Linked DNA regions of Homo sapiens: all the other regions are linked to region 1. Evidence: fine-mapped expression QTL. A gene starts in region 1. Each other region holds a variant in brackets. All regions are shown on one strand. Distances are between the middles of the regions.

Region 1 (4,065 bases):
GCTCTGGGTAGGAGAGGGGGTGGCCAGAGAGCAGACCGTTCTTGGGTGGCTCACAGTCCCCTAAAGGCCTCGGGTTAGGGAAGGACTGAAATATTGCTGGACAGAAAAATAGGAAGACTAGATATTGTCACCTCTACTTTTTCAAGGGAAGCAGTAGGACATCAGGGTGAAAGCCAGGCCAGGTTGCCTTTCAGCTCTGTTTCTTCTGAGCTGTGTGGCCTTCAGCAATAGTAACAACAACCACAGTGATCACAGTCAACGTTTATTCGACGCTTGATTTACATTTCGCGTGTCACTACTTCTTTGTTTCTCGGTTTCCTCATCTGTAAACGAGTGGGTGGGGAATTAATCGACTTCTCAGGGCTGTTGTGGGGCTCAAATGGTACCACGGGGGAAAGTTGGGCATGTGCTCGGGTTGTTTGTGAGGCCATAAGGGAGGCCCATATTGTTTGGAGGCTTGGGGGAATCAGGAGGATGTTCATTCCTAATGGAACCAGGTAGTGGGTTGGGGGTGAGGGTGGTGGCTCTCTTCACTGAGAGGTATGGCATGTGAGCAAGCTTCAAAGGGGAGAAAGAGGGATAAGGAGAAGGACCTTTAAGAGGAGGGCATCTGCCAGGTGCAGTGCCTCACATCTGTAATACCAGCACTTTGGGAGGCCAAGGCAGGAGGATTGCTTAAGCCCAGGAGTTCGAGACTAGCCTGGACAACATAAGGAGACCTCATCTCTACACAAAATTTTTAAAAAATTAGCTGGGTGTGGTAGTACACACTGGTGGTCACAGCTACTTGGGAGGCTGAGGTGGGAGGATCACTTGGGTCCAGGAGGTTGAAGCTGCAGTGAGCCATGATTGGGCCACTGTGTTCCAGCCTGGGTGACAGAGTGAGACCCTGTCTCAAAAAAAAAAAAAAAAAAAAAAAAAAAGAGGAGGGCATTGTGTGGGCAAAAGTGCGGAGGAGGAAAAGTATAGGGTGTGTTTGTGGAACAGTCCTGGTGCAATTAATGGCTAAGCCTGGCGCCCAGTGAATCAGCCAAGGATGCAGTCAACCAGCTCTTTGGCCCTGGGGCCAGCTTCGAGGCACAGAGACTTCTTTCCCTAACATTATCTTGTCCAGAGGTGGCTGAGGACAGGGCTAAGGGTGAAGGGAGACTAATTACAGAGCCCTACTTCTGGGTCTCTCACACCTACCCCTGGAAAGCCATCTGTCAGGAATGTGGCCGCCCCTCCCCACCTTCTGACCTCCTTAGCTAGGGACCAGTTTGGGCATCCCTAGGGAGTGATAAGCCACCAAGCAGGGGTGGCTGTAGGGAGTGTGTAGCTCCCAGCAGGCTGTTGGGAGTCAGTGGAGTTTGAAGAACAGATGGAGAGAAGGGAGGATGGGTTTAGAGTGAGAGGCTGGGGTCTTAGAAGAAGCAGTAGGTGGGCATGGTGGCATGCACCTGTAGTCCCAGCTACTCAGGAGCCTGAAGCAGGAGGATCACTTGAGCCCAGGAGGTCGAGGCTGCAGTGAGCTATGTTTGCACCACTGCACTCCAGCCTGGGTGACAGAGCAAGACCCTGTCTCTTAAAAAGGAAGAAGAAAACAGTGACGATGGGGGCTTACATTTGTCAAGCACCTACCATGTGTTGTAACCACCCTGTGAGGTATGTATCCTCACTTTACAGACCGGGAAACTGAGGCTCATAGAGGTGCAGTGACTTGCCGAAGTTTCTTTATCCAGTCATTCAGCATTCAACCTCAGCATCTACGTATTGAGCAGAGGCCCTGCGCCAAGCACTGAGGAGTCAGCGGTGACCACCTCTTGGCTTCTGTTCCCAAGGGTGACAGTGTCCTGGGGTCACACGGGCTCAAACCGAGGTCGATTTCCGAACGCTCACTTTGGAGCAGGATGCGAGCCCGGGCCACGATTGGGTCAGGTTGCGCCGCTCGCGTGGCCGCGGGAATCCCCGACCGGCCCCTTCCCTAGGGTCCCTCCTGGCGCACCTGCCCCAGGTGAGTCTGGGGAGGCCCCGAGCGCCGCCGGAAAGCGTCGAGCGGCTTCGGTAGGTGGGGCGGGGCCGGGGCGGGGCCGGGGCCGGGGAGGGGCCAGGCCCGGCACCCGGATCCCGAGGTCCGCGCCCCGCGCCCGGCGCCGGGCGCCCGAAGCCGGGAGCCGCCGCCATGGGGGCCTGCCTGGGAGCCTGCTCCCTGCTCAGCTGCGTGAGTCCCGACCCCGGCGCCCGCCCGCGCGCGCCGCCCGTTCCTGCTGCGGGCCCTCACTTTCTTCTGTTCTGCTCCGAGTAGTTTCTTCTTTTTCCTTCCTGCAAACTTGTCTTTCTGGGCCGGTGCCCCGCCTGCTCGCCCTCCTGGACCTTCACTCGGCACCCGGATCCCGCTGCCCCCGTCCCCCTGCTCAGTCCTGGCCGGCAGGCGCCGGGCAGCTGCGGTCCCGGCTCGGGTTTCCGCGGGCAGGAGGGGAGTGCCCTCGGCGGGCGCCCTCCTGGGACCTGGAGAGACTAAGCCTGGAGCCCGGGGTCGGGGCAGCTCTGTGGGCCCTCGTCGCCCCACTTGGGGCGGTCCTCGGGGTGGCCTCTGTCCCCGTCCCGGACGCCCTGGTTCTCTGTGTAGGTCGCCCGGGCCCCGTCCCTCCTGGCGAGTGCCCTGCCCTACCCCTCTGGCCGCCTGCCAGTCCGCCTGTTCCTGTCGCTCGGGCTCCGCCTGTCCGTTCGTATTTGTCTGGTTCCTGTCTGTGTCCGTCGTTCGTCCGACTGTCTTTGTCCGTCTGCTGTCTTCTGTCCGTCTGCCCGTCCGCCCGTCCGTCCCTCAGTCTCTCTGCGGTCCCTTTACCGTCCTCAGTCTGGCTCGCGCTGCCTCTCAGGCACTTCCCCAGCTCGCCCCGGATCATCTGGGCCCCAGCGCGGAGACTGGGATGGGAGCGGAGGGAGCCCCGGACTTTCTTAGCTGCCCTCGAGTGAGGCGGGTGCGGGTCGTCACGGACCACCGGGCGGAACTCTGGGTTGGGAGAGCAGGAATCGAGGGAGGTTCGGGTGTGCGCGGGGAGTGCCCGGTCGCGGGTTCGGGACCTGTGGGGAGGCCAACCTCTGTTCTGTAGCTGCAGCCGCAGAGGGGAGGGGCTCCAGCAAGACCCCGGCTGGGAGGCCCGTTCTCCCTTCCCTTTCCCCAGCCCCCCTCTCCTTTCCTCTTCCCCTCATTAAATCTGAGGTTCATTCAGGCAGCCCCCTCCCCCTCTGGCCCCACACAAAGAGGCCCTGAGAGGGAGAAGGGGCTGCAGCGGCTGCTGAATCTCGGGACTCGCTTTCCTTTGTCCCTGACGGGTTGTGTGTGTGTGTGTGTGTGTGTGTGTGTGTGTGAGAGAGAGAGAGAGAGAGAGGAGGGGGTGTAGGGGAGAGCTGAGGGTCTAGAGATTTACTTTACAGCCTTTTTCTGAGAATGAGATCAGCATAGACAGCACAGAGAGGCAAGAGAGCCTCTCGCCTCATTAGGCCTCCATTTTTCGTGTGTGTGTGTGCGTGTGCATGTGCGTGTGCAGGAGGAGGAATCAAGCTGGTGCCTGAAATCCCTCCCAGCCCAAAGAATTCAAGGTTTGGGCCAGGTCTCTGCCAACAAGGGTTTGCTTCCTGGTGAGGGAGGCAGAGCTTCCACAGTGGACCTGATTTCCATCGGTTGCACCTGGTGAGGCACAGGCCCTGCTGGGCTGGCCTGGGGGTGGAGATGTTGAGGGGCAGCCTGCCAGCCCTGTGTGCCTTGGTCACCCCATCTGGCAGTTGACAGTAACAGGGCCTTTCTCACAATGCTGTTGGGAGATGAGGCACAGTTCCTGGCATATCGTGAGTGCTCCTTGTGGGAATTATTGCTAACATCAAGGAAAGGTGGGTGGAGAATTCCATTTGGAGACAATGCAAAGCCAAGTGCTGGTCTCTGAGTTACAGCATTCTACAATGCTGAGAGCAGATAGGACTGCTCAAACCATCTGTTTACAGATGAGAAGACTGCCACCCGCCCGGAGAAGATAGCTGACTTTCCTAAGGTTGCACAGGGAAAGGATGAAGAACTGCATAGTTAGG
Region 2 (4,065 bases), 270 kb before region 1:
AACATGGTGAAACCCCGTTTCTACTAAAAATAGAAAAATTAGTCAGGCATGGTGGTGCCCACTTGTAGTCCCAGCTACCCAGGAGACTGAGGTAGGAGAATCACTTGAACCCAGGAGGCGGAAGTTGCAGTGAGCCGAGATCACACCATTGTACTCCAGCCTGGGCAATAAGAGGGAAACTCCGTCTCAAAATAAAAACCAAAAAAAACAAAAACAAAAAAAAACGGGTTTTTTTGGTCTGGCATGGTGGCTCATGCCTATAATCCCAGAACTTCAGGAGGCTGATCACTTGAGAGGAGGAGTTCAAGACCAGCTTGGGTAACATGGAGAAACCTGGCTTTATAAAAAAACAATAATAGGCCGGGTATGGCAGCTGACACCTTTAATCCCAGCACTTTGGAAGGCCGAGGTGGGTGGATCACTTGAAGCCAGGAGTTCAAAACCAGCCTGGCCAACATGGAGTAACCCTGTCTCTACTAAAAATATAAAAATCAGCCGGGTGTGTTGGTGTACTCCTGTAATCTCAGCTACTTGGGAGGCTGAGGCACGAGAATCGCTTGAACCTGGGAGGGGGAGTTTGCAGTGAGCTGAGATTGTGCCACTGTACTCCAACCTGGATAACAGAGCAAGATCCTGTCTCAAAATAATAATAATAATAATAATAATAATAATAATAATAATAATAAATTAAATTTAAAAAATAAATAAATGTTTAAGGTTTTTATTTAAGACAGGATCTCACTCTGTTGCCCAGGCTGGAGTGCAGTGGCCTCATCATAGCTCACTGTAGCCTTGATCTCCTGGGTTCAAGTTATCCTCCCACCTCATCCTCTCTAGTAGCTGGGACTATAGGCTTGTGCCACTGTTACTGGAAAAGGGTCCTGATCCAGACCGCAAGTGAGGGTTCTTGGATCTCGTGCAAGAAAGAATACGCGGAGAGCCCATAGAATAAAGTGAAAGCAAGTTTATTATTATTATTATTATTATTATTATTATTATTATTATTATTATTTTTTGGAGAAGAAGTCTTGCTCTGTTGCCCAGGCTGGAGTGCCAGTGGCATGATCGCGGCTCACTGCAACCTCTGACTCATGGGTTCAGGTGATTTTCCTGCCTCAGCCTCCGGAGTAGCTGAGACTACAGGCGTGTGCCACCACGCCTGGCTAATTTTTTTTATTTTTAGTAGAGATGGGGTTTCACCGTGTTAGCCAGGACAGTCTTGATCTCTTGACCTCGTGATTCCCCGCCTCGGCCTCCCAAAGTGCTGGGATTACAGGCAGGAGCCACCGCACCCAGCTGAAAGCAAGTTTATTTAAGAAAGTAAAGGAATAAAAAATGGCTACTCCATAGACAAGGCAGCCCTGAGGGTTGATAGATGCCCATTTTTATGGTTTATTTTTATTTCTATATGCTAAGTAATGGGTATAGATCACTCATGCCTCCCCTTTTTAGACCATATCGGGTAACTTCCTGCTGTTGCCATGGCATTTGTAAACTGTCATGGCACTGGTGGGAGTGTAGCAGTGAGGACGACCAGAGGTCATTCTTGTCGCCATCTTGGTTTTCGTGGGATTTAGCCAACTTCTTTACTGCAATCTGTTTTATCAGCAAGGTCTTTATGACCTGTATCTTGTGCCGATCTCCTGTCTCACCCTGTGACTTAACTGTCCGGGAATGCCTTAACTGTCCAGGAATGCAGCCCTGGTCTCTGCCTTATTTTACCCAGCCCCTATTCAAGATGGAGTTGCTCTGGTTCAAATGCTTCTGACACCACCATGCCCAGCTAATTTTTGTATTTTTTGTAGAGACAAGGATTCGCCATGTTGCCCAGACTGGTCTCAAACTCCTAGACTCAATGATCCTCCTGCCTTGGCCTTCCAAAGTGTTGGGATTACAGGCGCAAGCTACCACACCCAGCCAAACTTTTTTTGAGACAGAGTTTCGCTCTTGTTGCCCAAGCGGGAGT[G/C]CAATGGCTCAATCTCAGCTCACCACAACCTCCACCTCCCAGGTTCAAGTGATTCTCTTGCCTCAGCCTCCCAAGTAGCTGAGATTACAGGCATGCGCCCCCTTGCTGGCTAATTTTGTATTTTTAGTAGAGATGGAGTTTCTCCATGTTGGTCAGGCTGGTCTCGAACTCCCAACCTCAGGTGATCCACCTACTTTGGCCTCCCAAAGTGCTAGGATTACAGGCGTGAGCCACCGCGCCCAGCACAAAAGTTCTTTTTAATTAAAAACATGATTTACAGCTGGACTTGGTGGCTTACGCCTGTAATCCCAGCACTTTGGGAGGCCGAGGCAGGCAGATCACAAGGCCAGGAGTTTGAGACCAGCCTGGCCAACATGGGGAAACCCCGTCTCTACTAAAAATACAAAAAAATTAGCCAGGCATGGTGGCACGTGCCTGTAATCCCAGCTACTCAGGAGGTTGAGGCAGGAGAATTGCTTGAACCCAGGAGGCGGAGGTTGCAGTGAGCCGAGATTGCGCCACTGCACTCCAGCCTGGGCAACAGAGCAAGACTCAGTCTCAAAAACAAAACAAAACAAAACAAAACAAAACAAAAAACAAAACAGACAAAGAAACATGATTTAAAAATATAGACAGAGCCGGGTGTGGTGGCTCACGCCTGTAATCCCAGCACTTTGGGAGGCCGAAGTGGGCGGATCACGAGGTCAGATCGAGACCACCCTGGCTAACATGGTGAAACCCCATCTCTACGAGAAAAAAAACACAAAAAAATTAGCCTGGCGGGGTGGCGGGCGCCTGTAGTCCCAGCTACTCAGGAGGCTGAGGCAGGAGAATTGTTTGAACCCGGGAGGCGGAGGTTGCAGTGAGCCAAGATCACACCATTGCACTCTGGCCTGGGAGACAGAGCGAGACTCCATCTAAAAAAAAAAAAACAAAACTATATATCTATCTGTAGATATATAGATAGATAGATAGATATAGACAGAGAGAAGAATCCAGAAGGCCCAAGGGCAAAGGAGAGACAAAAGACAGCATTGCCTCAGAGAGAGGGAGACAGAGAGAAGCTAACAGTTTTCCAGTCCTTCCTTTCATTCACGTAGCAACCATTTATTGAGCCTCTCTTCCTTGCTTGTAACTGTGCAAGTCATTATGTATATGGATGAACAAGACTGAAGAGGGCCTTCCCCTTTTGGCACACACACTCCAGTGGGGGAGAAATAGTGAAACACATAGCTGCATGGATAATGATTTCATTAATTAGAATTTTTTTTTAGGCCGGGCGCGGTGGCTCACATCTTTAATCCCAGCACTTTGGCAGGCCGAGGCAGGTAGATCACCTGACGTCCGGAGTTCAAGACCAACCTGACCAACATGGAGAAACCCTGTCTCTACTAAAAATACAAAATTAGTTGGGTGTGGTGGCACATGCCTGTAATCCCAGCTACTCGGGAGGCTGAAGCAGGGGTATCACCTGAACCCAGGAGGCGGAGGTTGAGGTGAGCCGAGATCGCACCATTGCACTCCAGCCTGGGCAACAAGAGAGAAACAGGATTTTGCTCTGTCATTCAGACTGGAGTGCAGTGGCATGATCTTGGCTCATTACAACCTCTGCCTCCCAGGTTCAAGCTATTCTCTTGCCTCAGCCTCCCATGTAGCTGGGATTACAGGCTTACACAACCACAACCGACTAATTTCCGTATTTTTAGTAGAGACGGGGTTTTGCCGTGTTGACCAGGCTGGTCTTGAACTCCTGGCCTCAAGTGATCTGCCCACCTCAGCCTCCTAATGTGCTGAGATTATAGGGGTGAGCCACCGCGCCCAGCCTATGATTTCGTTTATTAGAATTGTAACTCTAATAGTGCCATTGCCCAATGCATACAGCAAGTCAATATGCCAAGACACCAGGTTGCAGCAGAGAAAGAGGTTTAATCACAAGACTATCAAAGGAGGAGAGGAGAGGAGACCTCACATCGGTCTCCCTGATGAGTTTGGGGCTAGGGTATTTAAAGGTTTTGGAGTGGGCCGAAGTGTACAGATCACTGGTCAAAGAGTGCAGGGTGAAGTGATAGGACAGGGAGATGTGGAAATGGCATTCTCAT
Region 3 (4,065 bases), 34 kb before region 1:
CAGTTCTCTCCTCATCCCTCTGATCTACCTGCATCCTCTTCCTCTGTTATGCTGACTACATTTGGGGAAGAATGTGAGCCCTGTCCCTTTTTGTACTCCTCTGTCTTGCCCTTGGCAGATCCAGATGTGGATATAACATCTGGCAGGCAGCAAGACCAGCGCCTGCCAAGAACAGCATCTCCCCAGCCCTCATCCTATGGTGAGGTCACTGTTCTATGTTTCCACGGCAACCACAGGCTGGGAAGATGGAGAAGAGGAGAGATGAGTAACCAGAAGCCAGCCAATGAGATGAGCTGCAGCACCGGATGATCCATGGGGCCATGGGGAGCGGGGACAAGGGAGGCCTGCTCAGCATGTTCAGCTGTTTCCTGGACCCTCCCTGCCATCTGGATGCCTCCACTAGAGAATGTGCTACTAGCACCAGGAAAGAGCTAGAGGCTGAAGAAGCTGAGTAGAAGCTCTGCTGACCCAAGAACATGGCCCTCCTTTTTTGCCTCTTCAGGGTCTAAGTCTATGGTTGCTGACTACCCCCGCCCCATCCCACCCCTAATATCTGCAACTGGGAACTTTTCCCATTTGCTGGGAATGATGGTGGGGCTCTTTCTGCCTCTGCCTGCCATAGAACCAGCAAGTCTTAGACATCCCTTCTTTTTATGCCCTTGGTCCATGGGGTCTTTGTTACCAGAAAGGGGTCCCAATCCAGACCCCAAGAGAGAGTTCTTGCATCTCACACAAGAAAGAATTCGGGGCAAATCCGCAGAATAAAGTAAAAGCAAGTTTATTAGAGAAGTAAAGAAATGTCTGTTTAGTAAATTATTAACCTGTTCCCTTAACTCTTAACTGTAAACATTTTGTGACTAAGAATGTTTCACCTTGTGGGAATGCATCCCAGCCAGGTCTCAGCTTCATTTTATCCAGCCTCTATTCAAGATGGAGTCACTCTGGTTAGAATGCCTCTGACATCTTCAGATGCAGTGTCTTTGGAAAGAGCCCTGATTCTAAACTCCAGGCCTGCATTTACTAGCTAGAGACCTAGAACAAGCTCCCTTTCCCCCTTCTGAGTCTTGTTTTCTCCCAAATAGAGGAAGGCCATCAACTTCTCAGGGTTGTTAGGACAATTAAAAGAGATAACAAATGGAAAGCCTACCGTGCACTAATATTGAAGGAATAGTAACTCCTTTCTCCTTTCCTCCTTCCAGTTCTTTTCCCCGGGATATTTGAGTAAGCCAAGGCCCTTTGAGACCCTGAATAAGTAGGAAAGGATTCAAGTATATGGCCAACTCCTCTTCATTGAGGTCACAGAGTGGCCTTCAGATCTTGGACATAAGTTTCCTCATATTTCCCTTTCTCTCTCTTTAAATATTCATTCATTCTACCAATCTTAATTGAGCACCTCCTATGGCCAGGCACTGTGCTAGGCTCAGTGAGGATCCAGGGTGAACAGGAGAGCTCCCTGCTCTCACTTAGCTCACAGTGCAGGGGGATTGCAGCTACAGTGGGTGGAGTGTTCTTTCTGCCACTAGGAAATCTGCTTCCTTGTTCCCCAAGAGTTCCAGATACTGTGGGCTGGAGAGAACAAATGATGGCAGAAGGTAGAGGTTTACTCAACACCAATTTGCTTCTAAGAAACTGCTGCCTGTGGCAGAATGCTCCCTGAAATGAGAACAATGACCCTCCCTGCCCTGGGGGACAGGGGGTACCTCAGTGGGGAGGGGCAATCTGCCTTCTCAGAAGCCATCCTCTCCCTGTTGCTGACAGAAGAAAGCCCAGACTGTATAGCCTGGTCTCATCTATTTCCTTGGTCTAATTTGTTGCTGAAATCCTTTTTAAGAAGAGTTTCTGGCGGAGAATAAGGTATA[G/A]TATATTGACAAGATCGGGTGCATTCAGGGTGGTATGGTTGTAGACAGGTACAGTATATTGAATGAATGAACAAATGAGTGAGTGAAGGAGAGAATCTATCTACCTCCCTAGTTTTAGGGGCTCTGGAGTGAGACTTGGGTTCCAGTCTTGCCATATGTATACAACAGCTGTGTGACCTCGGGCAAGTCATGATCTCACTGGGTCTCAGTTTCTAAATCTGCAAAGAGCATTATCACTATTCTCACCTAGCCAGCCTCCCAAGGACTCTGAGAAGCTAGGGGAGGACAAATTGAGGAATGCAGCACAAAGGATGTTTCTCCAACTCCTGGCCTCAAGCGATCCTCCTGCCTCAGCCTCTCCAGTAGCTGGGACAGGCGTACCTGGTTTATGTTTTTTCTCTTCCAGCCTCCTTCCTTGGCTGCCTGTGGTCCTTAGCACAAGACCCACTTTCTTTGACATGACCCCATAGCCACAGCCTAAGCATCACAGCCCACACACTCTAGCCCCTACCTGCCTCTCCCAGCTTTCCACACACACTGCAGCCATTCTGACCTTTTTGTACCTTGAGGGGACACCATGTTTCTCTCTTTATGTTTGCCAGCAGTGCTCTTCCTCACCCCTACAGTCTTTTCTTTTTTAAAAAATCTTTATATATATATATTTTTTTAGACAGTCCAGCTCTGTCACCTAGGCTGGAGTGCAATGGTGCAATCTCGGCTCATTGCAACCTGTGCCTCCCAGGTTCAAGCGATGTTCATGCCTCAGTCCCCTGGGTAGCTGGGATTACAGGCATCTGCCACCACACCTGGCTAATTTTTGTATTTTTAGTAGAGATGGGGTTTCACCATGTTAACCAGGCTGGTCTCCAACTCCTGACCTCAAGTGATCCACCTGCCTCAGCCTCCCAAAGTGCTAGGATTACAGGCATGAACCACCACACCCGGCCAACTCCTACTCATTTTTCAGCTTTCAGCATAACTATCCTGCTTCTGGGTAACACCATCTTCCCTGGCCTTCCCTATCCTGCTTTGATGTTTGTTTCAGAGTCTGTCTTTGCCATTACACCGGAGGCCCTTAGAGGGCTGGGACCCAGTCTGTGTTGCTTCTTGCTGTGCACAGGACCTGGCATGTATTTGTGGAGTGGACAGTCTCTCCAGAGAAAAAGAAAGCCACTTGTTCTTGCAGTGTTCTCTCTGTTTTGAAATTCTGACACCATCACCATCTCCTCCACTACTCTCAACTTTCCTCCTGCCAAAGTATCCTGTTTTGTGTCCTCTTTCTCACTCCATCCCTGAGGGCCAGTAGCCTGGGCCACTTCCTGTGTGTGGTGGGGCCCCAAGTACTCCCAGGTGAGAATTGCCCTTTGGAAAGCATGAGGGTAGCCTGGATCTCAACAGCAGCTTTTTTGGGGGGATGGGGCTATTCCCAGAAAGTGATTAAACCAGGCCCCAGACCTGGGGCTGACCCTGGCTCCCTCCTCAAACTTCAGTTTCCTTTTCTCTCAAATGAAAAAAAGGTTGCCTCTGCAAAACTCTAAATAGCCTCTAATATTGGATTAGGTAAAGTATAATTAGAAAGGTAAACCTTAGGCTTATAAAATGGCACCTCACATCACCATGAGGTCTCAAGCATGTTCATGTGCCATGTGGCCTGGCCTCCATCCCCTCTTCTGGCACCAAACACATGGTCCAGTAGTCATGCCTCATAATGCATTCTATTCAGGAACAGCTTACCCAAGATTGTGGAAGGATTCAAGCAGCTCCCGGAGACCTGACGAGCCTGGTTGGTGTGGACAGATGCCCACTGTTGTCCCTGGGTGAGGAGAGCTGGCAAGCCATGGCAGGGTGGCTGGCAGGGAGTGTGTCTTGGCCTCAGGAGTCTGAGGCCAGATGTGTTCCAGGAAGCAAGTACAAAGCCAACACTGTCAGCCTGGCTTGGGCTGAGATCTTGGGAGTTATCCGGGATGGGTTGATGGGGCAGCAACCCAGGACTCTATAGTAAACAAAGACACTGGATAGGAAAAGGAAGGAGCCCATTTGCAGGAAGGACTGGGTGGGCTGGGGGTGACCAGGACTGGAGCCCAGGGTGAAAGATTTCTCCTTGTAAAGGTTGGCGGTGGGAGGACCATGAGGTTAGAGGGATAGGATCAGAGTCAGGAAAAGATAAAGTCAGATGAAGAAGGCTGTCCTTAGAATGGGATCACCC
Region 4 (4,065 bases), 89 kb before region 1:
TGCCTTTTCCCTTTTAAAAATAGGGTTATTTTTGTTTTTATTGTTGAGTTAGGTGTTTCTCATATATTCTGGATACTAGTCTCATATCAAATATATGATTTGCAAAGATTTTTATGTAACATACTTGAAATGACAAAGTTATTTAAATGGAGAACAAATTATTTAATGGTTCACAAGGATTAAGAAGGGGAAGGAAGTAGCAATATGAAGGATCCTTGTGGTGAGGGACCTGTTCTGTATCTTAACTGTGGCAGTGTATACATGAATCTACACATGTGGTAAAATTACGTGGAACTAAATACATACACATACAGAAACACAAATGAGTACAGGTAAAACTGGGGAAATCTGAACAAGAGCCAGTCGATTTTATCTGAGATGTTTTTCCCTACACCAACCAATTCTCCAGTTCTCTGATTCTCTAACATCAACTGGATGTCCCAACAATTCAATTCAATTCTGACACTAACTACCTGGGAATTAGTGTCAGATTCCACAAACTTAAGGGCTCAGTCCCACATGACTACCCTCACTTCAGATGCCAGCCCCAATATTGAATCCTCAGATTACCTACACTTTTGTCTCACTTGGCTACAATTTTTGGGATTCCCAGCACTTCCCCCCAAAGTTGGTAATTTGCTAGAGTGACTCACAGAACTCAGAAAAATGCTATAGTTACTATTAGTTTATTTTAAAGGATAAAAATGAGCAGTCAGATGAAGAAGTACACAGGGTGAGACCCAAAGTGTTCCGAGTACAAAGCCTCTGTCCCCATGGAGTTGGGGTGTGTCACCCTCTTGGCACATGGATGTGTTCACCAACTCTCCAAACTCCATTGCTTAGGGGTTTATATGGAGGATCTGTTATATAGACATGGTTGATTAAATTATTGGCCTTCAGTGATAGAGCTCAGTCTCCAGCCCCTCTCCCCTTCCCGGAAGTCAGAGGGTAGGGCTGAAATTTCTTTTTTTTTTTTTTGAGAGGGAATCTAGCTCTGTTGCCCAGGCTGGAGTACAGTGGTGCAATATCAGCTCACCGCAACCTCTGCCTTCCGGGTTCAAGCGTTTCTCCTGCCTCAGCCTCCTGAGTAGCTGGGACTACAGGTGTGCACCACCATGCCTGGCTAATTTTTGTATTTTTGGTAGAGACGGGGTTTCACTATGTTGGCTAGGATGGTCTCAAACTCCTTTCCTTGTGACCTGCCCGTCTTGGCCTCCCAAAGTGCTGGGATTACAGGTGTGAGCCACCATGCCCAGCCCAGGCTGAAATTTCTAACCCTATCTAATCACATCGTTGATTTCTCTGTTTCTGAAGCTATCTAGGGACCCACAGTAGTCACCTCATTAAGGGACTTAATGAATAACAAAAGACACTTCTATCACTCAGAATAGTCCAAGCGTTTTAGGAACTCTGCCAGGAACTAGGGACAAAGATCGAATATGTATTTCTTATACCACAGTATCAATGCCAGCATCCTGGTTGTGTTAGTGTACTATAGTTTTCCAAAATGTCACCATTGGAGAAAACTGGATAAAGTGTACATAAAACCTCTGTATTCTTTCTTTCTTTTTTTTTTTTGAGACGGAGTCTTGCTCTGTTGCCCAGGCTGGAGTGCAGTGGCACAATCTCGGCTTACTGCAAGCTCCACCTCCTGGGTTCACGCCATTCTCCTGTCTCAGCCTCCCAAGTAGCTGGGACTACAGGCACCCGCCACCATGCCTGGCTAATTTTTTGTATTTTTAGTA[G/C]AGTCAGGGTTTCACCGTGTTAGCCAGGATGGTCTCGATCTCCTGACCTCATGATCTGCCTGCCTCGGCCTCCCAAAGTGCTGGGATTCCAGGCGTGAGCCACCGAGCCCGGCCTAGACCTCTGTATTATTTCTTTTGAGTGCAGATGAATGTACAATTATCTCAAAAATTTTTTTTCACATAGGGCAGCAAAGTTATCAAATATTTTTAAAAAATGATTTAAAACACTCCTAAAATCTTTGAGATTAATAAATATTTTAAAAGATTGCTGTTAATACCCAGTGTTAGAAATGGATACTTTTACTCTCTATCAGGAGCATAATTTCACAGACTTTGGCAATGCCTATTAACATCTTTTATGTGCTTATTACCCTTTAATCCAGAAATTCTTTGAAGAATTTAGTGTAAGTAGAGAATTACATAAATTATGTGCATCTGTTTTGTAGACTATGCAGATGATTGAAAGAATGACTGTATTTCTAAGACATAATTATGCCTCATCTTACCAGAAAGATGCCATGGAAGGTTTTCATACAATTCCATCACACTGCTACCTGACTGATAACAGTTGTAAAACATCATTGATTATGAGAAGCACTCCAATTTCAGAGAGATTAAAGTGAGAGGAAAAGAAAGTGCATCTTAGAATCAATGAAACACAATAAATGTCAGTTTACTGACATGAGCCAGGAGTGGTGGCATGCACCTGTAATTCCAGCTACTTGGGAGGCTGAAGTAGTAAGATCACTTGAGGCCAAGAGTTCGGGGCCAGGCTGGGCAACATAGCAAGACCCCACTGATGGCGATGGAGGCCTGTCTAGAGTGGCTGCTGCAAAGATGCCAGCCATAGTGGGGGCTGTGCGGCCAGGGCTGCATGTTCTATGGAGCTGGCAGGAGCCCTGCCCCCTTATGAGTTAGTGGGGTGGGAGCCCACCCTCATGGGTGCAGCTGCCGCCACCCAGCCCTGGCTGCAGACCCAGGCATCCCTGCACTCTTGGAGGTCCGGGAAGACCCCTTTCCCCCATAGTCTCAGAAGTGCCTGCTCCCACTGCCTGGACTCTCCAAGCTCCCGGCTCCTGCTCTGATTTTGGAGCAAAGTCGAAGCTGAGCCTGGGCACTATTGCAACCTGGCTGGGTTTGCACACCTTGGGGTGGTGCTGCCATGCCAGCTTCCTACCATCTTGGCCCCCTCTGGACTTTGGGTGCCAGTGAGCACAGGAGGGAGGCCAAAGGGGTGCTGAGGGTGGCTCAGCATGGGCCTGCAGGTGCCCCTGGGCACAGAACAACTGGGCGTCATGGACAACATGATTGATGGTGACAAGAGGCAGACAGGCTCCTGGGTGGAAAGGGGCAGGTCTCGGTGAAGCCGCACCTTCAAGCCAGGGATGGCCTAAAGCATAGGGGCCAGGCTGTCAGTTCCAGGTGGAGTCTGTGGCCCAGAGTGAGAACTTAAGGTGCTTTTCCTGGGCCTGCCCATGGACCAGTCAGCACACACTTCTGAAGACTGTAAAAATCCTGGACTCAGCCAGACTTGGGCAGACACTGGGAGGACTTGCCTGTGGAAATGGGTTACCCACACTGGGTCTCCTCTCCGTCAAGGGCTGCAGATGTTGGGATGACCTGCCTGCAGATAAGAGCTGCCCATTCTGGGTCTCCTCTCTGCTAAGAGCTGCACTCAACAGGTTGACCTGCCTGTGGAAAGGAGCTACCTACTTTGGGTCTCCTGAGAGCTGTACCATCACTCAATAAAGCAACTCTTTGCCTTGCTTACCCTCCAGTTGTCTGCTTACCTCATTCTTCCTGGATGCAAGACAAGAACTTGGGACCCGTTGAATGGCGGGACTGAAAGAGCTGTAACAGATCCAAGGGCTCCCTGAGCCAGAGCTGTGACACCTCTTTGGGGCTTTATGGTTCCTGGCCTCTCCAAGCTTCTGGGCACCACCATGTTCCCCAGAGTCCACAGTGGAAGCCGCTTGTGGTATGCCTGGTCCATCCACAGCCTCACATGGAGCTGGTGCCTGTGCCAGCACCTGGAGCTGCCTGCCCAGCCACAGCAGCCAGTGTGCCTGGCTGTGCACAGTGGCTGGACCCCATGCTCACTCACTCATGCATCCCTCGCCACTCCGAGCCTGGCTCGCCCTTGGCAGGTGTGGGATCTGGGACGGCAGCATGAGCCAAGCGCAGCCCATTAGACCAAGTGGATGGAACAGGCCTAGTGGCCCCAAGCAAAGCTGAATGCAGCCTGCCAGGCCAAGTGGGCAGAACGAGCCCAGCAGGTCCAAGCAAAACTCGGGCAAAGGTGCTGCTGGCCACAGCAGCT
Region 5 (4,065 bases), 500 kb before region 1:
ACCCCCGTGCCTGGGAATAAACTGCTCATTTAGAATCATTTTCCTGGAACCAAAAATATGCCTCCCTAAAAATATATTTTCTTTCTCACCTCATTCTGAGGCTGCAGCAGCTCAGCTGCCTCTAGGAGGTGGGTGGGGGAGAGTGACCGGGGCCTGTGGGGGGAGATCCCCCTTTCCCCAGGGCTGTGGATACTGACCACTGGGTCCCCCTCTCTGAGCACAGCTGTCATTGAGATATGCAGTACATCACATTTGTGTGTGTGTTTGGTTTTTTGGATTTTCGAGACTGTTGGACCCACATTCAAACTTCAACCTAGAGGTATCGAGCCCCAGCGAGGGCTGGGCACAGATCTGGACACTGAGGGAGCTCCCACCAAGGATGGGAGGCAGGCAACAGGCAAGCAACTGCACCAGGGGACACCTTAGTGCTGCCCTCGCCTCCTGTGTGCCTCTGAGCAGGTGCTTCTCCCACCCTGGGCCTCAGTCTCGTCATCTGCGAAGGGATCAGATGCGGGTAGCCACCCTGAATTCTCTGCGGACAGTCCTGCCGCTGGCCATGGTGGAGGGGAAGAGCAGCTGCCCTGGCAGCACTGACTCCAAAGAGAGGCCTGGGGCACTCGGGGCTCAAATTCTGGGTCTGCCACTTCCAGGCCAGTGGCCAGGGCCATTTTCCTCCCATGCAAGTTAGGGTCAGTGACGGCTCACAAGGCTGGAGGGAGGCAAACAAAGCAACACAGGACAGCACCCAGCATAGGGCAAGGCCCACAGTCACATGGAGCAGACCACTGTGTTTTTGTTGTTGTTATTTTTAGAGACAGGGTCTCACTCTGTTGTCCAGGCTGAAGTGCAGTGGCACAATCACAGCTCACTGCAGCCTCTATCTCCTGGGATCGAGAGATCCTCCTGCCTCAGCCTCTGGAGTAGCTGGAACTATGGTGGGCCACCACACCCAACCCTATGCCACTAATTTTTTTTTTTTTTTTTTTTTAGACAGAATCTCATTCTGTCACCCAGGCTGGAGTACAGTGGCGTGATCTCGGCTCACTGCAAGCTCCGCCTCCTGGGTTCACGCCATTCTCCTACCTCAGCCCCCTGAGTAGCTGGGACTACAGGCGCCTGCCACCACGCCTGGCTAATTTTTTTGTATTGTTAGTAGAGACGGGGTTTCACCATGTGTTAGCCAGGAAGGTCTCGATCTCCCGACCTCGTGATCCGCCCGCCTCGGCCTCCCAACGTGCTGGGATTACAGGCATGAGCCACCATGCCCAGCCCCTAGGCCACTACTTTTAAGTCATTCTTTGTCTGGTTCACCCCAGACCTGAGGTGGGAGGGCGAGGATACCCCACCCTTCCCCCACGGGAACTGAGAGAGTCTGAGGTTCCACAGGGAGGGGGCAGGTGGCTGCCAGGACCCTGGAACAGGTTGGCTTCGGCCCCTGGAGTTGTTGGTCCAGCCCTGCCCAAGGACATGTTCCCATGCTGGTATCTAGGAGCACCAGGAAGTGTAATCCAATTATACACTTTAAGTTATTTTTAAAAGTATGATTAAATTATTATTATGTTAATTTTAATTTTTATTTATTTATTTATTTGTTTTTTTAAACGGAGTCTCTCTCTGTTGCCCAGGCTGGAGTGCAGTGGCGTGATCTCTGCTCACTGCAAGCTCCACCTCCTGGGTTCACGCCATTCTCCTGCCTCAGCCTCCTGAGTAGCTGGGACTACAGGTGCCCACCACCACACCTGGCTAATTTTTTTTTTTTTTTGTATTTTTAGTAGAGATGGGGTTTCACCGTGTTAGCCAGGCTGGTCTCAGTCTCCTGACCTGGTGATCCACCCGCCTTAGCCTCCCAAAGTGCTGGGATTACAGTCTTGAGCCACCGCACCCGGCCGATTAAATTATTGTTGACTAGGCCAGGTACAGTGCCTCACGTCTGTAATCCCAGCACTTTGGGAGGCCGAGGTGGGCAGATCACTTGAGCCCAGGAG[T/C]TCAAGACCAGCCTGGACAACACAGTGAAACTCCTTCTCTACTGAAAATACAAAAAGTAGCCGGAGGTAGTGGTGTGTGCCTGTAATCCCAGCTACACGGGGGGCTGAGGCAGGAGAATAGCTTGAACCTGGGAGGCGGAGGTTGCAGTGAGCCAAGATCGTGCCACTGTACTCCAGCCTGGGCAACAGAGTGAGACTCTGTCTCAAAAAAAAAAAAAAAAAAAAAAAAAAAAGGACCGGGTGTGGTGGCTCATGCCTGTAATCCTAGCACTTTGGGAGGCTGAGGTGGGTGGATCACAAGGTCAGGAGTTCAAGACCAGCCTGGCCAAGATGGTGAAACCCCATCTCTACTAAAAATATAAAAATTAGCCAGGCATGGTGACAGGTGCCTGTAATCCCAGCTACTCGGGAGGCTGAGGCAGAGAATTGCTTGAACCCAAGAGGCAGAGGTTGTAGTGAGCCGAGGTCGGGCCACTGCACTCCAGCCTGGGTGAGACTCTGTCTCCAAAAAAAAAAAAAAAGGTTATTATTGACTATAGTCACCCTTTTGTACTATCAAATACTAGGTCTTATCATCCTTTCTTTTTTGTTGCACCCATTAACTGTCGTCCCCACCTCCTCTCCTCTACCCCCTCACTAGCCTTCCCAGCATCTGGTAACCAACCTTCTGTTCTCTATCTTCCTGAGTTTAATTGTTTTGATTGTTAGATCCCACAGATAAGTTTAAAGTGCTTCTTTGAGTGAAAAGCAATTCATGAACTGGGAAACACCAAACCAGAAGAGGTTTAATGTTCCAGTGACAAATCATCAGAGGCAAGTATTTAAGGGATAAACGCAGAAGTAAAATAAATTATTTGATTGGTTGCAATTATATAGTTGTTTATTTGGTCTATGCCGTTAGAAAGTCCCCCGTTATATAAAAATTTGTGGACTACTTCTGACTGGTTGAGCTGAAGTTCTGTTTTTCTTTAATAGAGGCATTTACAAGAAATAGCTCAATTTTTGCTTATGTTTGCAAATCAAGCAAGGTTGAGGTCATGTATGAGGCCTAACTGGTTTTGTCTGCTCTGGGATTCTTCAGACCTGGTCTCCATTTTAATTTAACAAGTGAAAGGGTTATAGGGCTGGGCACAATGGCTGACGCCTGTAATCCCAGCACTTTGGGAGGCCGAGGCGGGTGGATCAACTGATATCAGGAGTTCAAGACCAGCCTGGTCAAAATGATGAAACCTTGTCTCTACTAAAAACACAAAAAATTAGCCGGGTATGGTGGCGCGTGCCTGTAATTTCATCTACTCAGGAAGCTGAGGGAGGAGAATCGCTTTAACCCGGAAGGCAGAGGTTACAGTGAGCCAAGATCATACCATTGCACTCCAGCCTGGGCAACAGAGGAGACTCCATCTTCTTTTTTTTTTTTTTTTTTTTTGAGACGGAGTCTCACTCTGTCACCCAGGCTAGAGTACAGTGGTGTGATCTCGGCTCACTGCAACCTCTGCCTCCTAGGTTCAAGCAATTCTCCTGCCTCAGCCTCCCAAGTAGCTGGGATTACAGGCGCCCACTACTGCGCCAGGCTAATTTTTGTATTTTTAGAAAAGATGGGGTTTCACCATCTCGGCCAGGCTGGTCTCGAACTCCTGACCTCGTGATCCCAAAGGCCTCGGCCTCCCAGAGTGCTGAGATTACAGGTGTGAGCCAACACGCCCAGCCTCAGGAGACTCCATCCTGAAAAATAAATAAAGTATTACAGGACTATGGTTCCTCTGCCCACTGCACAGTAACAGACCCCATTACATGGAGACAGCAGGGTTTGCAGAAGCAGAAAGAGTTTACTGATCACAGGGCACCAAGCGAGGAGATCCTCAAATCCATCCCTCCGAGGAGTTCTGGGCTGGGATTTCTAAGGGGATTGTTGAGGGTGAGGGGCTAGAAAACTTGGGTCATTGATGGTTTTGAGTAAGGGGGATGACATCATCAGGACATGGAAACTGCATTTTTTGGTGAGTCAGCTCTTCAAACCAGTCAGGTCCTTCAAACCAGCTGAGTCAGCAGTTTCCTCAGTATGCAGGACCTGAAGGAATAG
Region 6 (4,065 bases), 120 kb before region 1:
CTCAGGAGGCTGAGGCAGGAGGATCACTTGAGCCCAGGTGGTGGAGGCTGTACTGAGCCAGTGGTCAACACAGAGAGATTGTCTAAAAACAAAAAAACAAAAAAAGAGAGAGAGAGAAGCAATGTGGGTTCCACAGTATGTGGTACTGCAATTTAAAATAGGGTGGTCAGGAAAATCCTCACTGAAAAAATTACATTTGGGCAAATATTCGCAGGAGCTGAATAGTAAACCATGTAAACATTTGTGAAGAGCAATCCCACAGAGAGGACAGCAAATGCAAAGGTCCTGAAGCAGAGGCTTGGAAGAGAGAGTAACTGAAGCCAGGTGAGCAATAAGAAATTGGTCAGAGAGGTAAAGGGAAAGAGGGCAAATAATTACAAGAATTTTGGTTTTTACTCTGGATGAAGTACAAAGCCACCAGAAAGTTTTCTGCAGAGTGTAATGTGATCTGATGTTTAGAAGGATTCCTTTGGTTATTGGCTTGGTAACAGGTGCTGATACAAAGGTAGAAAGTGGAAGACCAGTTAGGGTCCCACTACAAAAATGCCAGATGAGATAATAATGGCTTAGGCCATGAGGCAATGATGGAGATGGTAGAAGTAGCAATTCTAGACCTATTTTGAGGACGGTGCCAGCAGGATTTATTGAGGAGATGTGAGGACACTCGTATTTCCTCGTCTGAGCCTAAACAGGACATTAGAAGTGTGATCACTATTTCTATCTTACAAAAAATGTAGTTAGGAGCATGGTTTCTCAGTTCGAAATCTGCTTCTATCACGTACTTGGTAAGTCTGTTTTTCCATCTGCAAAATGGGTTAATAACGTTCCTAACAGGCTGCTACCAAGATCAATGGAAATTTCATATACGAAACACTTTAGTACAAGAGTCAATGAATGTTAGCTGCTATTTAGTTGTTAATAATACTAGTGCAGAGAAATAAAGGGAAAAGCAACTTGCCCAAAGTCCCAAAACGAGCCAACACAAATCATTTCCCTTTTTTCTTCCCTCCCTCATTCATTCATTCTACACACTCTTCGGAATTTTTGTTCTATGCCAGATCCATGTTAGAGTCAGGATGCTTAAACCCGGGTCAGGGTTTTGAGCCCAAGGTCCTCAACTCTAATTCTAATGCTATCTCAGGGCAGTCGAGAGGCTGAAAACGGGCGCCAAACGGGGGAACACGTACGCAGCATTCGCAGGCTATGGGGAGCTTTTACAGTGTTTATGTGCTTTAACTCTGCGTAGAAACTCTCGTTCTGCCCCCGCAATGCGGGAAAGGGTCAGGGATCACCAGATACAGCGCTCTGAGGGGAGGAAGATGAGCTGAGGGCCAAAGGCCGCCTGCTTCTTCACTTACCGCTTGCAGCAAGGCTCCCGGCGTCGCCTGCTGCTGCCCGGCTCCTGGGCCAGACCCCGCTCCCAACAGCAACTCATGCCGCTGCCGCTTGACTGGAACCAGCGGCAACTCTGGGCCCTTACGCTTCTGCTGTTCTATCATGGCGGCAACCGGTCTCTTCAGCGCCGCCACTGACCGCGCTGCCGCTCTCAGGCGCCACGCAATTGGTTCCAAATTAGTCCTTCCTCCACAACTTCCAGCTTGGAAGAACCAATCGGCTTTCAATATTTCCATTTGCACCGCCCTCGGA[T/C]AGTCTCTTGTTATTGGGCATATCTTTCTGACGTCATGAGAGTGCGATACCAGGATTGGTGGACGGAGCTGGCGACCGCCCTAGGCGCGCTGGGTCTTGTGGGTGGAAACGCGCTGGCTGACTGGGGTCGGCGTTTAGTTCAGCGCAGCGACTCGGGGACCTGGAGCTGACGCCTAGTACGTATGAGGAAGAACGGGGTGGGTGGCTGCCTGAGTCTGGAGGCGACGCCTCGGTTGTGCAGTCTGAACCTGCCCTTCTCAGCTGAGGGTGCTGACAGCAAGGGGTGGGAGGCGGGCCCCGAGTCCCCAGCTGTGGTAAGTAGTAGCCTGGGCTCCCTTTCGGGGCAGGAGCGGAGCCTTGGGGTCTCTGGCGGCAAGACCCAGCCCCTGCGGCTCCCTTCTTCAAGAGCGCCCATCGTGGCCAGTCCTGTGCCGGGCATTCCCAGGGAGAAAGGCCTGCGTCCCAGCCTCCTCCGGTGCCCCATTTGGCCGAGGAGGCTGACTTGTTTCTGCCACTGATTTTGCAGTTTTTGATCAGGGCCTACTGTATGCCCCCCTGAGAGAGACAGTGATGAAGGAAATGTCCGACTCCTTCTCCAGAGCACAGTCTTGTTGAGAAATTTGAGACTCATGCCCATGAACGTGGTCATTGCCTCAGTCGTCCTGCTGATATTCATTTAGCAGCGCGTTGGGGGTATGTTGTGAACCGGGCACGGTCCCTACTCTCAGGGCGTTTAACTCTGGTGGGGAAAACGTTAAACAATGACCTCACTAATACATGGAAATGCCTCCTACTGCTGCCTGATGCTATGAGTGCCTGAAATAAGCAGGAAGGTTTTTCAGAGGAAAAGATGCCTGCGCTGGTAGCTGCAGGAAGTGTTGTAATTAATTAGGTGAAGAAGTGAAGGCAGAACCTTCCATAGAGAACTACTTGTTCAGAGCCCTGAGGCACTTGGGAGGAAAATGACTAAAAGCACAAAGAGCCAGTGTGGCTGGTACAAAGAGAATGAAGGGAGTATGGTACAAGATGAAGCTGTACGTGATAGCGGTCAGACCTTGCAGGAATTTGTAGCTTTTATTTTAAAACGGATGAGATACCACTGAGCCGTCTTCCCCCAGTGGGGTGTGGTGGAGGAGGGGACTTGATCCCTCAGGCTCAGTGGTGTGAACAGACGGGGGTTGGGGAAGCCCTAGTCGATGTATGTGGACCACTTGGGATATGCAGTAATCCTGGTCAGAGATGTCAGTGAGGACTGAGATATGGGTGGAACTGCAGAGAATTGGACAGATTCTAGAGGTATATAGGAGGTAAAATGGGTGGGACTTGGTGATGGGTTGATTTTAGGGAGTGAAGAGAGGAATCAAAGGTAACTCCTAGGTTTCTGGCTTATGTAGTTGAATAGATGGTGGTACCATTCACTCACTATCACGGAATCCCTCAAGCTGGATAGGGAACACTAGAAGATGATTAGAGACCAGTTTTTTTTTGTTTTTTTTTTTTTTTTGAGACAGGTTCTTGCTCTGTCGCCCAGGCTGGAGTGTGGTGGTGCAACCTTGGCTCACTGCAACCTCCACCTCCCAGGTTCAAGCAATTCTCCTGCCTTAGCCTCCCCAGTAGCTGGGATTACAGGCGCCTCCACTGTGCCCGGCCAATTTTTGTATTTTTGGTGGAGATGGGGTTCCACCATATTGGCCAGGCTGGTCTCCAACTCCTGGCCTCAAGTGATCCACCTGCCTCAGCCTCCCAAAATTCTGGGATTACAGGCCTGAGCCACTGCTCCCAGCTGAGATCAGTTTTTATTGATTGATTGATTGATTGTGTGGGGTCATTCATGACATCCAAGAGGCAGTTTGAAATACAGCTTTGTGCTCAGAAGAGAGATTTGTGTTGGGAATATAAAATTGGGCATAATTTGTATATACATGAATTGAGCCATAGGTGTGGGTAAGGTCAGCTAAGTCAGAACCTTGACTAGTTCCAACATTTAATGGTGAAGAACAGGTGAACCTACAGGAGATACAGAAGAAAGGAAGGAGGACTGGAAGAATGTCTCAGAAGCAAAAGAATGATTTGTGATAGAAATTTCTAGAATTTAAATAACATGAAGATTGAAAAACATATTTTGGCTTTTATCATCATGGAGGTCACAGTAACCTTAGCAAGAGTTATTTTGTTGGTGTGATTGGGCCAAAAGCCAGATATGAGGCAAGGATTTGGACAAGAAAATGTAGGTAGTGAACCTACACAGTATTTTTCATAGATCTGATTGTAAAGAGGAGGAGAGGATGTGCTAACCGATGGGGATAAGGGATTATCCAGGATCCAGTTGAGGATCCAGTTTTGAGAAATTTGAGAATATTGTAGAAGATTTGAAAGTCACTGTGGAGTGTGGGAGAATGAGGTTACTAGAGAAATGTA
Region 7 (4,065 bases), 59 kb before region 1:
TCCACATTTGGCCCTGTCTCAGTGATTGGAACTCATTGACCCATTTGATAAGCCAAAATCTGCAGCCTTTTTGTATAGTGTTTTTTGTTTGTTTTTATGGTAAAATACACATAACATAAAATTTACCATTATAGAAGTGTACTGTTCATTGGCATTAAATACATTCATATTGTTGTACAACCATCACTGTCTTTGATCTCGAGAACTCTCTATACTCATTAAACAATAACGCCCCCCATTCACCCTTCCTCCCTGCACTTGCAACCACTGTTCTACTTTCTGTCTTGAAACCATGTGGTATTTGTTTTTGTGACTGGCTTATTTCACTTAGCATAATGTCCTTAAAGTTCATCTGCATCATAGCATATGTTAGAATTTTCTTCCTTTTTAAGCCCAAATAATATTCTGTTCTATGTATTTATTTTTTGAAGCAGGGTCTTGTGCTGTTGCCCGGGCTGGAGTGCAGTGGCACAATTATGTCTCACTGCAGCCTCAACCTCCTGGGCTCAAGTGATCCAGGAGTGTGCCACCACACCCAGCTAATTTAGTTTTTGTAGAGATGGAGTCCTGCTATGTTGCTCAGGCTGATCTTGAACTCCTGGCCTCAAGCAGTCTTCCCACCTTGGCCTCCTAAAGTGCTGGGATTACAGGCATGAGCCACCACATCGAGCCCCATTTTATGTATATACCACATTTTGCTTATCCATTTATTTTTGGTGAACACTTGGGCTGCTTCCATATTCTGGCTATTGTAAATAATGCTGCTGTGAACATGGATGTATAAATATCTCTGAGACCCCACTCTTCTTTCTTTTTGGTATATACCTAATAGTAGAATTGCTGGATCATATATTCTGTTTTTAATATTTTGAGGAAGCACTCTGTTTCCCATTGTACGTTCCCATCAATAATGCACAAGGGTTCAAGTGTCACTACATCCTTGCCAACACTTATTTTCTGGGTTTTGTGTTTTTTGGAGAGTAGCCATCCTAATGCGTGTAAAGTGACATCTCATTGTGGTTTTGATTTGCATTTCCCTAATGATTAGTGATATTGAATATCTTTTCATGTGCTTATTGGCCATATGTATATTTTCTTTGGAGAAATGGCTATTTAAGTTCTTTGCCTATTTTGCATAAGCTTGTTTATTTTGTTGTTGTTGTTGATATGTAGGAATTTTTTATATGTTCTGGATATCAATCCCATCAGATATATGGTTTGCAAATACTTTCTTCTAATCTGTGGATTGTTTTTTTACTCTGTTGATAGTGTCCCTTTTTTCCCTATCAGATTTAGACTTTTTAAAATAGTGGTAAAGAACATATAACATTTACCATCTTAACTATTTTTAAGTGTACAGTTCAGTAATGTTGAGTATGTTCATGATAGTATTCATTGCACAAAAAAATTTTAATCTTGGTTAAGTTAAACTTACCTTTTTTTCTCTTATTGCTGATGCTTTTAATGTCATACTCAAGAAATCATTGCCAAATCCAATGTCATGAAGCTTTTCCCTTATATTTTTCTAAGAGTTTTGTAGCTTTAGCTCTTACGTTTAGGTCTTTGATCCATTTTGAGTTTATTTTTGTATATGGTGTACAGAAAGGGTCCAAAATTTCTTTGCATGTAGATCTCTAGTTTTTAAAACACCATAGGTTGAAAAGACTGTCCTTTTCCCCACTGAATGGTCTTGGCCCCTGTTGAAAATCATTTGACCAAATAAGTGAGGATTTATTCTATCACTGGTCTATATGTCTTTATGTCAGTACCACACTGTTTTGACTACTGTAGCTTTTTAGTAAGCTTTGAAGTTGGGAATTGTGGATCCTCCAGCTTTGTTCTTTTTCAAGATTGTTTGGGCTATTTGGGGTCCTTTGAAAGATTTCATATGAATTTTAAGATAGATTTTTATATTTTTGCAAATTCTGATAGAGATTGCATTTAATCTGTAGATTGCTTTGGATAGTATGGACATTTCAACTGTATTAAATCTTCCAATCCATGAAAATTGGATATCTATTTGTATCTTCTTTAATTTCAGCAACATTTTGTAATTTTCTGTATACATGTCTTTCATCTCCTTGGTTAAGTTTCTTCCTAAGTATTTTTTTCTTTTTGATGCTACTGTGTGAATTGTTTTCTTAATTTTTTTTCTGATTGCTCCTTGCT[A/G]CTGTATAGAAACACAACTGATTTTAGCATGTTCGTTTTGTATTCTGCAACTTTGCTAAATTCACTTACTCGTTCTAACAGGATTTTTTTGTGGACTCTTTAGGGTTTTCTACATAGAAGATCATGCCATCTGTAAACAGAAATAATTTTCTTGCAGATTTAGTTTTTTTTTTCTTTTGAGGCAGAGTCTTGCTGTATCACCCAGGCTGGAGTACAGTCACATGATCGTGGCTCACTGCTGCCTTGACGTCCTGGGCTCAAGCCAGATCTAGATTTTTAACTGTGATTCTATTTGTATGTTCCAAGCATTATTCTTTCTCTTTTAACCTTTTAGAGGTAAATGGTACTTGTTACATTCCTAAAGAGGGTATATGGATATCTCACTTCTGTGGATCTTTGGTTGAGTTCTTTTTGCTGAATATATTGAGTATAATTTGTTATTCCTTTGTTTCTAAAGCTGCTTTGAGATATGTATTTCAGTTCACAAAACCAATTACTGAGGCTCTATCTGCTAGGTATGAGGCTCTTTATGACCTGCTTAGTCAACCTACTACCCAGCCCTCCATTGCCTTTCACTTAGTAGAGGAATGGTCTGATGAACAATGGCAGTAATAATCATTATACATTATTATTTCTTAAAAGTATCTTTGGCCGGGCACGGTGGCTCATGCCTGTAATCCCAGCACTTTGGGAGGCCAAGGCGGGTGGATCACTTGAGATCAGGAGTTTGAGACCAGCCTGGCCAACGTGGCAAAACCCCGTCTCTACTAAAAATACAGAAATTAGCCAGGCGTGGTGGCGAGGGCCTGTAATCCTAGCTACTTGGGAGGCTGAGGCAGGAGAATTGCTTGAACCCAGGAGGCGGAGGGTGCAGTGAGCCGAGATTGCGCCACTGCACTCCAGCCTGGGCGACAGAGTGAGACTCCATCTCAATTAAAAAAAAAAAAAAAAAAAAAGTATCTTTGTGTATATGAACTTCTAACTCATGAGTCCTCTTTGATTAAAAAGTGTTCTAGGGAGTGTAGAAGGGTAAAACTTTCCTCTTGATGCCCACTATTTCTACCAAGATAGCATTTAGCATCGTTGTCTTTTCACCTCATTGTTAATCCCGTCATTACCTTTTATGCCTCATATTTGTTTAGTGCTTACAGTTTATAAAATACATTGCTGTTTTTGTTTCTTTTTATCATTATACAATTCTATGAGATAGCCAGAACAGGAATTATTATCCCACCATTTTACACATGAGTAAAATGGAGCTTCAGAGAAATTGACGTAACTCACCGGAAGTCACACAAATATAAGAGATAATGCTGAAAAAATAACCCATGTCTTCAGATTACTAACAATATTCTTTTCTGTATATCACACTTCAACCATTTATTTAACTCTTCAATTATTCATTTACTGAACAAATATGTATTATCTGCTTCATAGGTATCTAGCATTGTGTTAGGTACTTGACATATCAGGACTCATCAAGTCAGTTTTTGGTGGGTTTTTGTTTTGTTCCCAGCTACCGTTAGCCATCATGTGATGTTATCTATTGATTTGTTTCTGCTCACAACTGTAAATCAAGATTCCAGCCCTCCTGTTTCCTTTTACCCTCTAAATCTTGGATTCCAGCAGGAGGTTGGTTTTCCTTAACAGTAAAATCTTCTGTCTGAGATGGCTTTTTTGGTGTGTGAGTGGCAGATTTGGACACTTGTTTCAGGACTAGTCAGCTCTGGGAGCCAAATATGGAACTGAGTAGATTTGTGAAGGAACATGCCTTTAGCAGTCCATGCTCCTGAGTTGGACAGTGGAGAGTAGGAATGCCTGGCGTGTGGAAGGGCATATATGATAGTAACTCATGTAAGTTCAGTTAATGCATTTCTAACAGTTAAAAAAGTAACT

Evidence for each region. PIP is the estimated chance that this variant, and not a neighbour inherited with it, causes the effect.
Region 2: its variant is fine-mapped to the expression of SERINC2 in whole blood (INTERVAL, PIP above 0.99).
Region 3: its variant is fine-mapped to the expression of SERINC2 in cerebellum (GTEx, PIP above 0.99). The same link has a PIP of 0.9 or more in cerebellar hemisphere and nucleus accumbens.
Region 4: its variant is fine-mapped to the expression of SERINC2 in whole blood (TOPMed, PIP above 0.99).
Region 5: its variant is fine-mapped to the expression of SERINC2 in whole blood (TOPMed, PIP above 0.99).
Region 6: its variant is fine-mapped to the expression of SERINC2 in whole blood (INTERVAL, PIP above 0.99).
Region 7: its variant is fine-mapped to the expression of SERINC2 in whole blood (TOPMed, PIP above 0.99).

What each region holds. Positions count from the first base shown.
Region 1 is chr1:31,411,105-31,415,169 of GRCh38, forward strand. SERINC2 (serine incorporator 2) reads left to right here and starts at 2,109. Exons shown (of 10, transcript NM_178865.5): 1 at 2,109-2,200. The coding sequence starts at 2,162. RefSeq lists enhancers at 1,857-2,357, 3,628-4,065 and silencers at 1,924-1,993, 2,074-2,133.
Region 2 is chr1:31,137,382-31,141,446 of GRCh38, forward strand. No RefSeq gene overlaps it. Among named protein-coding and RNA genes, the nearest start is that of PUM1, 74 kb to the left of the region's middle. The variant G/C (reference allele first, on the strand shown) is at 1,967.
Region 3 is chr1:31,376,694-31,380,758 of GRCh38, forward strand. It overlaps LOC124903892 (a long non-coding RNA gene), which reads left to right. Exons shown (of 2, transcript XR_007065573.1): 2 at 119-794. Among named protein-coding and RNA genes, the nearest start is that of FABP3, 5.6 kb to the left of the region's middle. RefSeq lists a silencer at 109-403. The variant G/A (reference allele first, on the strand shown) is at 1,860.
Region 4 is chr1:31,321,762-31,325,826 of GRCh38, forward strand. The region is part of intron 3 of ZCCHC17 (zinc finger CCHC-type containing 17); the gene reads left to right. Among named protein-coding and RNA genes, the nearest start is that of ZCCHC17, 27 kb to the left of the region's middle. The variant G/C (reference allele first, on the strand shown) is at 1,746.
Region 5 is chr1:30,915,179-30,919,243 of GRCh38, forward strand. It overlaps the pseudogene RN7SL371P. Among named protein-coding and RNA genes, the nearest start is that of SDC3, 8.5 kb to the left of the region's middle. The variant T/C (reference allele first, on the strand shown) is at 1,986.
Region 6 is chr1:31,295,253-31,299,317 of GRCh38, forward strand. It overlaps SNRNP40 (small nuclear ribonucleoprotein U5 subunit 40), which reads right to left and starts at 1,536. Exons shown (of 10, transcript NM_004814.3): 1 at 1,359-1,536. The coding sequence starts at 1,499. ZCCHC17 (zinc finger CCHC-type containing 17) reads left to right here and starts at 1,780. Exons shown (of 8, transcript NM_016505.4): 1 at 1,780-1,823. RefSeq lists an enhancer at 1,305-1,514. The variant T/C (reference allele first, on the strand shown) is at 1,648.
Region 7 is chr1:31,352,075-31,356,139 of GRCh38, forward strand. The region is part of intron 7 of ZCCHC17 (zinc finger CCHC-type containing 17); the gene reads left to right. Among named protein-coding and RNA genes, the nearest start is that of FABP3, 19 kb to the right of the region's middle. RefSeq lists silencers at 828-1,122, 2,815-2,982. The variant A/G (reference allele first, on the strand shown) is at 2,170.